Regions from separate parts of the Homo sapiens genome. Here region 2 is reported to be linked to region 1. The links are microRNA targets in miRTarBase. Many come from high-throughput screens and were not tested one by one. Region 1 holds a microRNA gene; the other region holds the end of a gene's coding sequence.

Region 1 (4,166 bases):
CATCGACTTCGGTTCGGGTGCGCTGCTCAAGGACACGGTCTACACCGACTTCGACGGTGAGCGCGGGCGCGGGGCAGGGAACGTTCCGGGGGCCTTGCCGGCGGGTTAACGCCTGCAGGGGCGGCACATGGAGGGGCTGATGACTGTTGGGCGGCCGCGCGCCCTGGGTCTGCTCTCGTGGGGAGCAGAGGCCCACGCGCTACCCTGGGGAGGGCTGAGCGAGGGATCAAGAGCGGGATCGTGCTGGGTGGGGGCTAGGGGCGCGCTCAATATTGCTTCCTCCATCGCGTTGGGGGGTACGGGGCCTCTTGCCCCGGTGTGGGAGGCGCGTGACATCCTTCCGGCCCGAGAGACCCCCGGCTGGGGGCGGTAGCGGAGGAGTCTCCGTGCGTGACGCAGGGCGCAGCCGGGCTGGGTCTGCGCCGGGAGCCTGGAGGCCCCCGCGGCGCGGTTGGAGTGGCGGGGCCTCCCCTGCGTGGGGGCGGGAGCTGCGTGCGTGCGGAGCGCGGGGGCGCGGCGGCAGAAATCCCCGCATTGCGGAGCTTGGGGAAGCCGGGGCTCCCCGCCCGCCCCTCCCTCCTCCCTCCCTCTCTCCCCTCCCCCCGTTCCCGCAGGCAGGCGCGCCGGGCGGTAAGGGACCCGCGCTGTCCCCCCCCCACCCAGGTAGCCTCACAGCGCATCTGTTTGTTGTGAAAGCCGAGCTCTTACTCATGTGACCTGCTCCTCCCCCGCGGCCGGCGGAGGGGGACGGCCGGCCCCTCCCCCAGCCCCCCCATCGCCTGCCGGGGTTTTTCCAGGGTGATGACGAGCAGGATTTTGAGGCCTGGCTCTGCTTCCTGTTACTGAGGCCAGGGAGTTAACCAGCAGGGACCTCGCCGTCTGTTGAGCGGCTCTGCCTCTGTGGTGGGCGTGCTAAGCCCTGTGTCCCCTTAGGCACCCGAGTGTACAGCCCCCCGGAGTGGATCCGCTACCACCGCTACCACGGGCGCTCGGCCACCGTGTGGTCGCTGGGCGTGCTTCTCTACGATATGGTGTGTGGGGACATCCCCTTCGAGCAGGACGAGGAGATCCTCCGAGGCCGCCTGCTCTTCCGGAGGAGGGTCTCTCCAGGTGCGTGGTGGCTCGAGGCGGGGGTGGGGGCCTCGCCCTGCTTGGGCCCTCCCTGACCTCTCCGCTCCGCACAGAGTGCCAGCAGCTGATCCGGTGGTGCCTGTCCCTGCGGCCCTCAGAGCGGCCGTCGCTGGATCAGATTGCGGCCCATCCCTGGATGCTGGGGGCTGACGGGGGCGTCCCGGAGAGCTGTGACCTGCGGCTGTGCACCCTCGACCCTGATGACGTGGCCAGCACCACGTCCAGCAGCGAGAGCTTGTGAGGAGCTGCACCTGACTGGGAGCTAGGGGACCACCTGCCTTGGCCAGACCTGGGACGCCCCCAGACCCTGACTTTCTCCTGCGTGGGCCGTCTCCTCCTGCGGAAGCAGTGACCTCTGACCCCTGGTGACCTTCGCTTTGAGTGCCTTTTGAACGCTGGTCCCGCGGGACTTGGTTTTCTCAAGCTCTGTCTGTCCAAAGACGCTCCGGTCGAGGTCCCGCCTGCCCTGGGTGGATACTTGAACCCCAGACGCCCCTCTGTGCTGCTGTGTCCGGAGGCGGCCTTCCCATCTGCCTGCCCACCCGGAGCTCTTTCCGCCGGCGCAGGGTCCCAAGCCCACCTCCCGCCCTCAGTCCTGCGGTGTGCGTCTGGGCACGTCCTGCACACACAATGCAAGTCCTGGCCTCCGCGCCCGCCCGCCCACGCGAGCCGTACCCGCCGCCAACTCTGTTATTTATGGTGTGACCCCCTGGAGGTGCCCTCGGCCCACCGGGGCTATTTATTGTTTAATTTATTTGTTGAGGTTATTTCCTCTGAGCAGTCTGCCTCTCCCAAGCCCCAGGGGACAGTGGGGAGGCAGGGGAGGGGGTGGCTGTGGTCCAGGGACCCCAGGCCCTGATTCCTGTGCCTGGCGTCTGTCCCGGCCCCGCCTGTCAGAAGATGAACATGTATAGTGGCTAACTTAAGGGGAGTGGGTGACCCTGACACTTCCAGGCACTGTGCCCAGGGTTTGGGTTTTAAATTATTGACTTTGTACAGTCTGCTTGTGGGCTCTGAAAGCTGGGGTGGGGCCAGAGCCTGAGCGTTTAATTTATTCAGTACCTGTGTTTGTGTGAATGCGGTGTGTGCAGGCATCGCAGATGGGGGTTCTTTCAGTTCAAAAGTGAGATGTCTGGAGATCATATTTTTTTATACAGGTATTTCAATTAAAATGTTTTTGTACATAGTGGATAATCCTGTATTTATGGGGCTGGGCATCCTGGGGGAAGAGAGGGGCTCTGAGGAAGGGCTTTGGCTGCTGGGTGACCTGACAAGTTTCCCGTGGGGCTGGTAGTTTTGCCCACGGGGGAAACGGGGGAGGCCCAGCTGGGTGCCAGCCTCCCCAGTGCCACAGGCTACTTCATGTGGCTTGTGGCCCACCGCACTACCCCGTGCTGCACCCAGGGAGAAGAGCAGCTGCCTCCTGGGGTGCCTCTGGGAGGTGGAGGCAGGGAGCCAGGCCCTGAGGATGCAGCAACCCACACTAGTCAGGAGGTCATTCCTCGGTGGTCCCAGGAGGATCTCTGCAGCCCCCACCCAGGGAGGCCTTGCCAGTGGAAATGGCCATACTTGCATCCTGGCTTGGTGGAAACAGAGACGTGCGGGGGGGTGGGGGAGGGAGTCCATGCTGCCTCAGAGGGTGGCTGGGGGTTTTGAAGGACAGGGAGGAGTTTGCCAGGCACATGGGGTGGGAGTGTGTTCCGGGCAGTGCCAAGGACGTGCAGAGGACATGAGGGTGGGGTTTGGTGGAGGGTATCGGGGTGTTCAGTCAGTTATAGTTAGACCCTGGCCTGGCGGGTGTGTGGTGAGAGAGTGGGGTATGAACCAGGTTCGGGTGTGTCAATGGGCCTGGCCACAATGTTCCTGGTGGGTAGAGGAGGCCTGGGTGGAGGGTCCCAGTGAGACTGCTCCCCCACCCCCACCCCAGGGGCCTTCTGCTCAACTGCCCACCCTGTGCTGGGCTGTGGGGTGCCCCATGTTGGCAGTGGACCTGCACCTGGGGCATCACCCAGTCTGCCAAGCGCACCTACTCGGCTCTCTGGCTCCTGGAGCCCTGTCTGCCCCCTGCCTCCCATCTGCCCCTCCGAATAAGAGTCCCTGATAAACAGCCCGGGGCAGGCAGCACCATACTGGACAGAAGACTGTCCCAGGCCCGAGGCCAGAGGCTGTGGCAGAGGCGGGAAGTTTGGGAAAGAGAAACAGGAGGAGACGAAAGTCACCCTTCCCCTGGAGAGCAGGCAGAGAGGGCTCGGGTGGGGGGCTCCCGCCTCAGGTTGTGACTGTTCAGGACATCAGTGGGTGTTTGTGGCCTCTGCTGTGGAGATCCAGGAGCACCTGGAGGGCAGCTGCTCAGTTAGGCAGGTCTCTCGGGGCCCTCATCTCACCCTACAGCCTCAGGCCAGCAGGGGAGATGAGGAGGTGCCGGGAAGGACAAGCCACCGGTTCCCATAGACCTGGCCCAACCAGCGTGCCCTGAGTCCAGTCTGGTCCAGTGAGGCTTTTCCCATTACCCCACCCCCCACTGCCAAAATGGGACCCTCGGGCAGCAGCCATTGCGGCCCACCTGCTCCTGGGCCAACTGCCATGGGCATTCCCCAGCCCCCAGCCATGGGCATCCCCAGCCCCGGCTTCAGCCAGGCAAAGGCCCTCCACGCAGATTGCTTTTGGGAAACTGAAGGCCAGAGAGGCAGGAACCTTGGGCAGATGTCAGAATAGGACTCTGGTCCTTCCCACTGCTGTGCCCCACACACTGCTGCTGAGGGCTGGCTGGGGACCCCTCTAAGGTGGCCTACAGGGTGGGGACATCTGCCAGGGCCCTGGGAATGGGTGCAGGGCGCTGGGCTGAGGCTCCCAGCGAGATAGCTCTGGCCTTCTAGCACAGGGGATGGCGCGCTTGGGGGCGCCTCTGGACATAGCCCTCCACCCCCTGACTCAGGAGGAGACAGGGCCCAGCCAGCCTCGGGTCCTTCCTCAGGCTCTCGGCCACAGGTCATCTGCCTGACTGAGCACCACGGCCCAGGGGCGGCAGGAGCTGG
Region 2 (4,091 bases), not on the chromosome of region 1:
TCCCTATTCCTCTGTATAGCTAGACCACCACTGCTGTAAGTTTAACACTGTAATATGATTTCTTCATGTGTAGGTCACCACTACAATGTAATCTCCTTGAAAGAGGCAGCCACATACAATTTACCTTGTATTTTAGCACAATGCCAGGCATATTGTGGACACTTATTAAGTAACTGCACTGTTTAAATACTACCCACCTTTCAAGGCCCAGTTAAATGTCCATTTCCACCACTTATGTTTACCTAATGAGTCCAGTCAGATTTTCTCTTCTCAGAATTCTACTACTTGACTAACCATATGCTATCTTGCATTATATGTAGAAGTGTCTCAATTAGGTTACATGTTCCTCTAGAGCAGAGATGACCTCTTACACTGTTTATCTGGCCAAAAACAGCTTATTTTTCCAACTGCAAAGCGAGTATTCAGCAGTCACTTGGGACTTAAAATATTGCAGCCCAACCACGGGAGGTCCCACTTTATCTTTACTAGTGAAGTCATCTGTCTTTAATAAAATTCAGCTAACAGCTTATCTCCTGACTCTCCTTCCCTTAGCTTAGCTACTGGAACTCTGCTTAGAACTATAAATCTGCCTGTATTTGTGTGCTGCTGTCATATCTCAGGTTCCCCAGGATGGAAGAGATCTTTCTTTTTAATCTCCCTCAAGACCCAGTAGAGGGCATTATACAGACGAGGGCTGCTTGTGTGGGTGCTGTTGGCTCACTGTGGATATATCCTCAATGGCAACTCTCCAAGTTATTTTTCTTTGCCTGTCTTTGATATGCCCAGCCCACACCAGCTTAAAATAAAAGCTGTTGGACAGTAACGGTGACTTCATCCCTGCCACCCTGTATATTAGATGGCTCAGCTTAGTGGCTTGTCAGCACAATCAGGTTGGAGGAGTGGAAGAACCTTTGATTCAACTCTTTGGGATAAAGACTTTAGAATACATCTAGCTAAAATAATGAGCAGGAATAACTATTAGAAGCATTGCAGAATCAGTTTGCTTTGCTTGCCTAGCCCTACAGTATGGGAGTGAAGGAGATGGACTGTCAAGTTTTAAAATGGGATACATCCTGCCAAGTGTGCAGTGGTGAAGAACTAAAAGGAAAAAAAAAAGGCTAAGGAGTAACATGAAATACAGATAGCCCCAAACATTTTTGGCACCCCAGGCTTCTTAAGGCCACAAATTAAAATTGAGGACCAGGGAAGCCAGGAATAGTGGGAAGAAATAATATAAAAGCCTAAGATACTAACTCAAGCTCTTCAGCTAACTAGCTTTTCTACTTTACAAGTAACTTATCTCTATACCTTAATTTCCTCACTTGTATTAAAATGAAATTGCACTAACTGCTGGGTGTAGTGGTTCACACCTGTAATCCCTGCACTTTGGGAGGCTGAGGTGGAAAGACTGCTTGAGGCCAGGAGTTCAGGAGCAGCCTACACAACAAAACGAGATCCTCTCTACAAAAGAAAGGATGAAAATATATTCTCAGCCAGGCGCAGTGGCTTATGCCTGTAATCCCAGCACTTTGGGAGGCTGAGATGGGAAGAGTGCTTAAGCCTGTGTTCTGAGACTCACCTGGACAACATGGTGAATCCTCATCTCTACAAAAAATAATTAGCCAGGTGTGGTGGTGTGTGCTTGTAGTCCCAGCTACTTGGGAGGCTGAGATGGGAAGATTACTTGAGCCCAGGAGGTTGAGGCTACAGTGAGTGTTTGCACCCTGCACTCCATTCTGGGTGACTGAGCAAGATCCTGCCTCTAAAAAAAAAAAAAAAAAGAAAGAAAGAAAGAAATTGAATGATCCCACATTCAGCCTCATAGACCTCACCTCATTCCCCAGCTGGCAAACACAAACCAGGGATAACATACTCAGGAGGAAATCATGGGATGGCTCACTAACCCCACCACAATAAACACCATTAACTTGTGTCTCTAGTTTAAATTTGTACTTGTTTTATTTTATTCATTTATTTTTTTTAGATGGAGTCTCGCTCTGTCGCCCAGGCTGGAGTGCAATGGCACAATCTCGGCTCACTGCAAACTCTGCCTCCTGGGTTCAAGCGATTCTCCTACCTCAGCCTCCCAAGTAAGTGGGATTATAGGCATGTGCCGCCACGCCCGGCTAATTTTTGTATTTTTAGTAGAGATGGGGTTTCACCATGTTGGCTAGGCTGGTCTCAAACTCCTGACCTCAAGTGATCCACCCACCTTGGCCTCCCAAAGTGCTGGAATTATAGGCGTGAGCCACCGTACACCCGCTGGAGTTTTTTCTCCTTTGGTAACCTTTCTTTTGTACGTTACATTCACAGGCAGCTTTTAACTTCTTTCAGTAGCAGGTTTCCAGCAATGCAGATTGGCACATCATGAGGAAAGAAATCACTCTGCCTCCTGCTGGCCACCAGCAGAAAGACTTGAGTTTCTTTTGGCTTATTACAAAGAAATAATATATTTCTTTTGGTTTGTCACATTTCTCCCTCACAAACATGGGAACTTGAAAAGGAATGGAAGACAGAGGGAAAAGGAGACTGGGCCTCCTTTTCTGCTAAACCTGGACTAGGCTTAGGTGTCAAGAAACCATTTAGATCAAATATCTTAAATGCCTCATTTTGTGAGCCACAAACTGAGGTTGATGCACCTTCTACATTGGTTACAGAAACAAAGGGATGGGCAAGGTTTATGCCAACATTCCTGCTCCCTTTCCTAAGTGATGGTATTGGGGAACTCAGCCGCATCTCACATTAACAATGTCTTCAGTATTGTTTTCTTCCCCCTCCCAAACCCCAATAAAACACACCAACTGCTTCAGAATATTTCTGGGTTGGGTTTTTTCATGGGTTTTTGTTTTGTTTATTTCGAATACTGAAAAAGTCCTTTGGGCTCTGTGGGGTTCCCCACGCTCACGGCTCCTTTCTCCCACACTCACTGCCCTTCTTCCCACAGCAAATCTATTTCAAGGACAGTACTTTTTAAAATGATTAATGTTGAGTTCTCAACTAGCTCTGCAGAACTAGAGGAGCTGTTTGCATCTGTCTGTGCGGATGGAGTTTCTTTTATCTGACACCAGGTCTCCAACCACACTGAAACAAGGCATTTATCTACAGAGCTCAACTAGAACCCCTTTTCATTAGGCTACTCCACTTCCTTCCCCTCATACCTACCCCACATCAGCCACGTGGTTAAGAAGGATAGTCAGGAATGTTTTTACCAACTCCAAGCCCTAATTCATACTCCTCCATATCTCCCACCCCACCCTTTCAACCCCACCCCCACCCCCAGAATTTCATTGATATTTCTCCCAACTGTTATTTGGAAAAAAGGTAAAACAAAAAAGGTTCAAGGTCTTGGTGCTCAGCCCAAGGGGCTCCATGTGCTGGGACACCAACAGGAAAGGGCTTCTGCCTCTCCAGCCCACACCCGAGCCACCTCCTGACCCCTGGCTGCAAAAGCAGGAAGGGGCAGGAGCCAGCACAGGACCCGGGTGGGGCAGGGAGGGGAAGCGTCTCAGGATCTGGCAGAGCCCCGGGCAGCATCATTCAACTTGGCCACTGCGGACGAACACAGAAGAAAAAAAAAAAAAACAACACTGTCAAGTAATAGGGGAAAAAAACCCTGAACTCCAACCCAGTCTCTACCCCATGATTCCTCCACATTTAACAACCATTAGGCTACCTGGCATGTCTCAATCCTATCCATAAGGGAGTTGCAAAAAAAATCAAAAAATAGAATTTCAGTCTTTTCCTATCCACGAAACAACGTTATCTGCCTTTCTGGGATATCCATGGATAACAAACATAGAAAAATAATTCTTTAGATAAGATCAAAATAACTGGAGGTTTCCAGGTGGGTAAGCTGCCTGGCTCAGAGCAGGCTGTTTCAGAGGCATGGCCACAGCTACTTGCAAAGACTGAGGTAGCACAGAGATGAGGTGGTGACTGTGTGGAGGCCAGAACCAGACCACACACATGCTGTTCTGAATGGATTTAATAATCTAGGTTTAATCAAAGCAATTTGCATTTGGATTTTGGAATGACCACTCCTTGCTAAGGAAGCTATGTACTTCATGCTGTGGAAACTGGCAAATACAGAA

What was found. Region 1 holds the annotated microRNA hsa-miR-6821-3p (UGACCUCUCCGCUCCGCACAG, at 1,164-1,184, shown strand). A microRNA usually pairs through its seed, bases 2 to 8, with sites in the 3' UTR of a target mRNA and lowers its output. Matches are read on the target gene's strand: a 7mer-m8 pairs with bases 2 to 8, a 7mer-A1 pairs with bases 2 to 7 and ends in A, and an 8mer does both.
Region 2: miRTarBase lists ENSA as a target of hsa-miR-6821-3p. The part of its 3' UTR that is shown has no 7-base or 8-base seed match.

The regions. Positions count from the first base shown.
Region 1 is chr22:49,961,756-49,965,921 of GRCh38, forward strand. MIR6821 (microRNA 6821) reads left to right here and starts at 1,111; the gene lies at 1,111-1,184. It overlaps PIM3 (Pim-3 proto-oncogene, serine/threonine kinase), which reads left to right. Exons shown (of 6, transcript NM_001001852.4): 4 at 1-56; 5 at 934-1,110; 6 at 1,185-2,317. The coding sequence ends at 1,372. RefSeq lists silencers at 180-229, 360-879 and an enhancer at 3,453-3,953.
Region 2 is chr1:150,619,311-150,623,401 of GRCh38, forward strand. ENSA (endosulfine alpha) reads right to left here. Exons shown (of 4, transcript NM_004436.4): 4 at 2,815-3,549. The coding sequence ends at 3,534. Among named protein-coding and RNA genes, the nearest start is that of ENSA, 8.3 kb to the right of the region's middle. RefSeq lists a silencer at 3,343-3,637.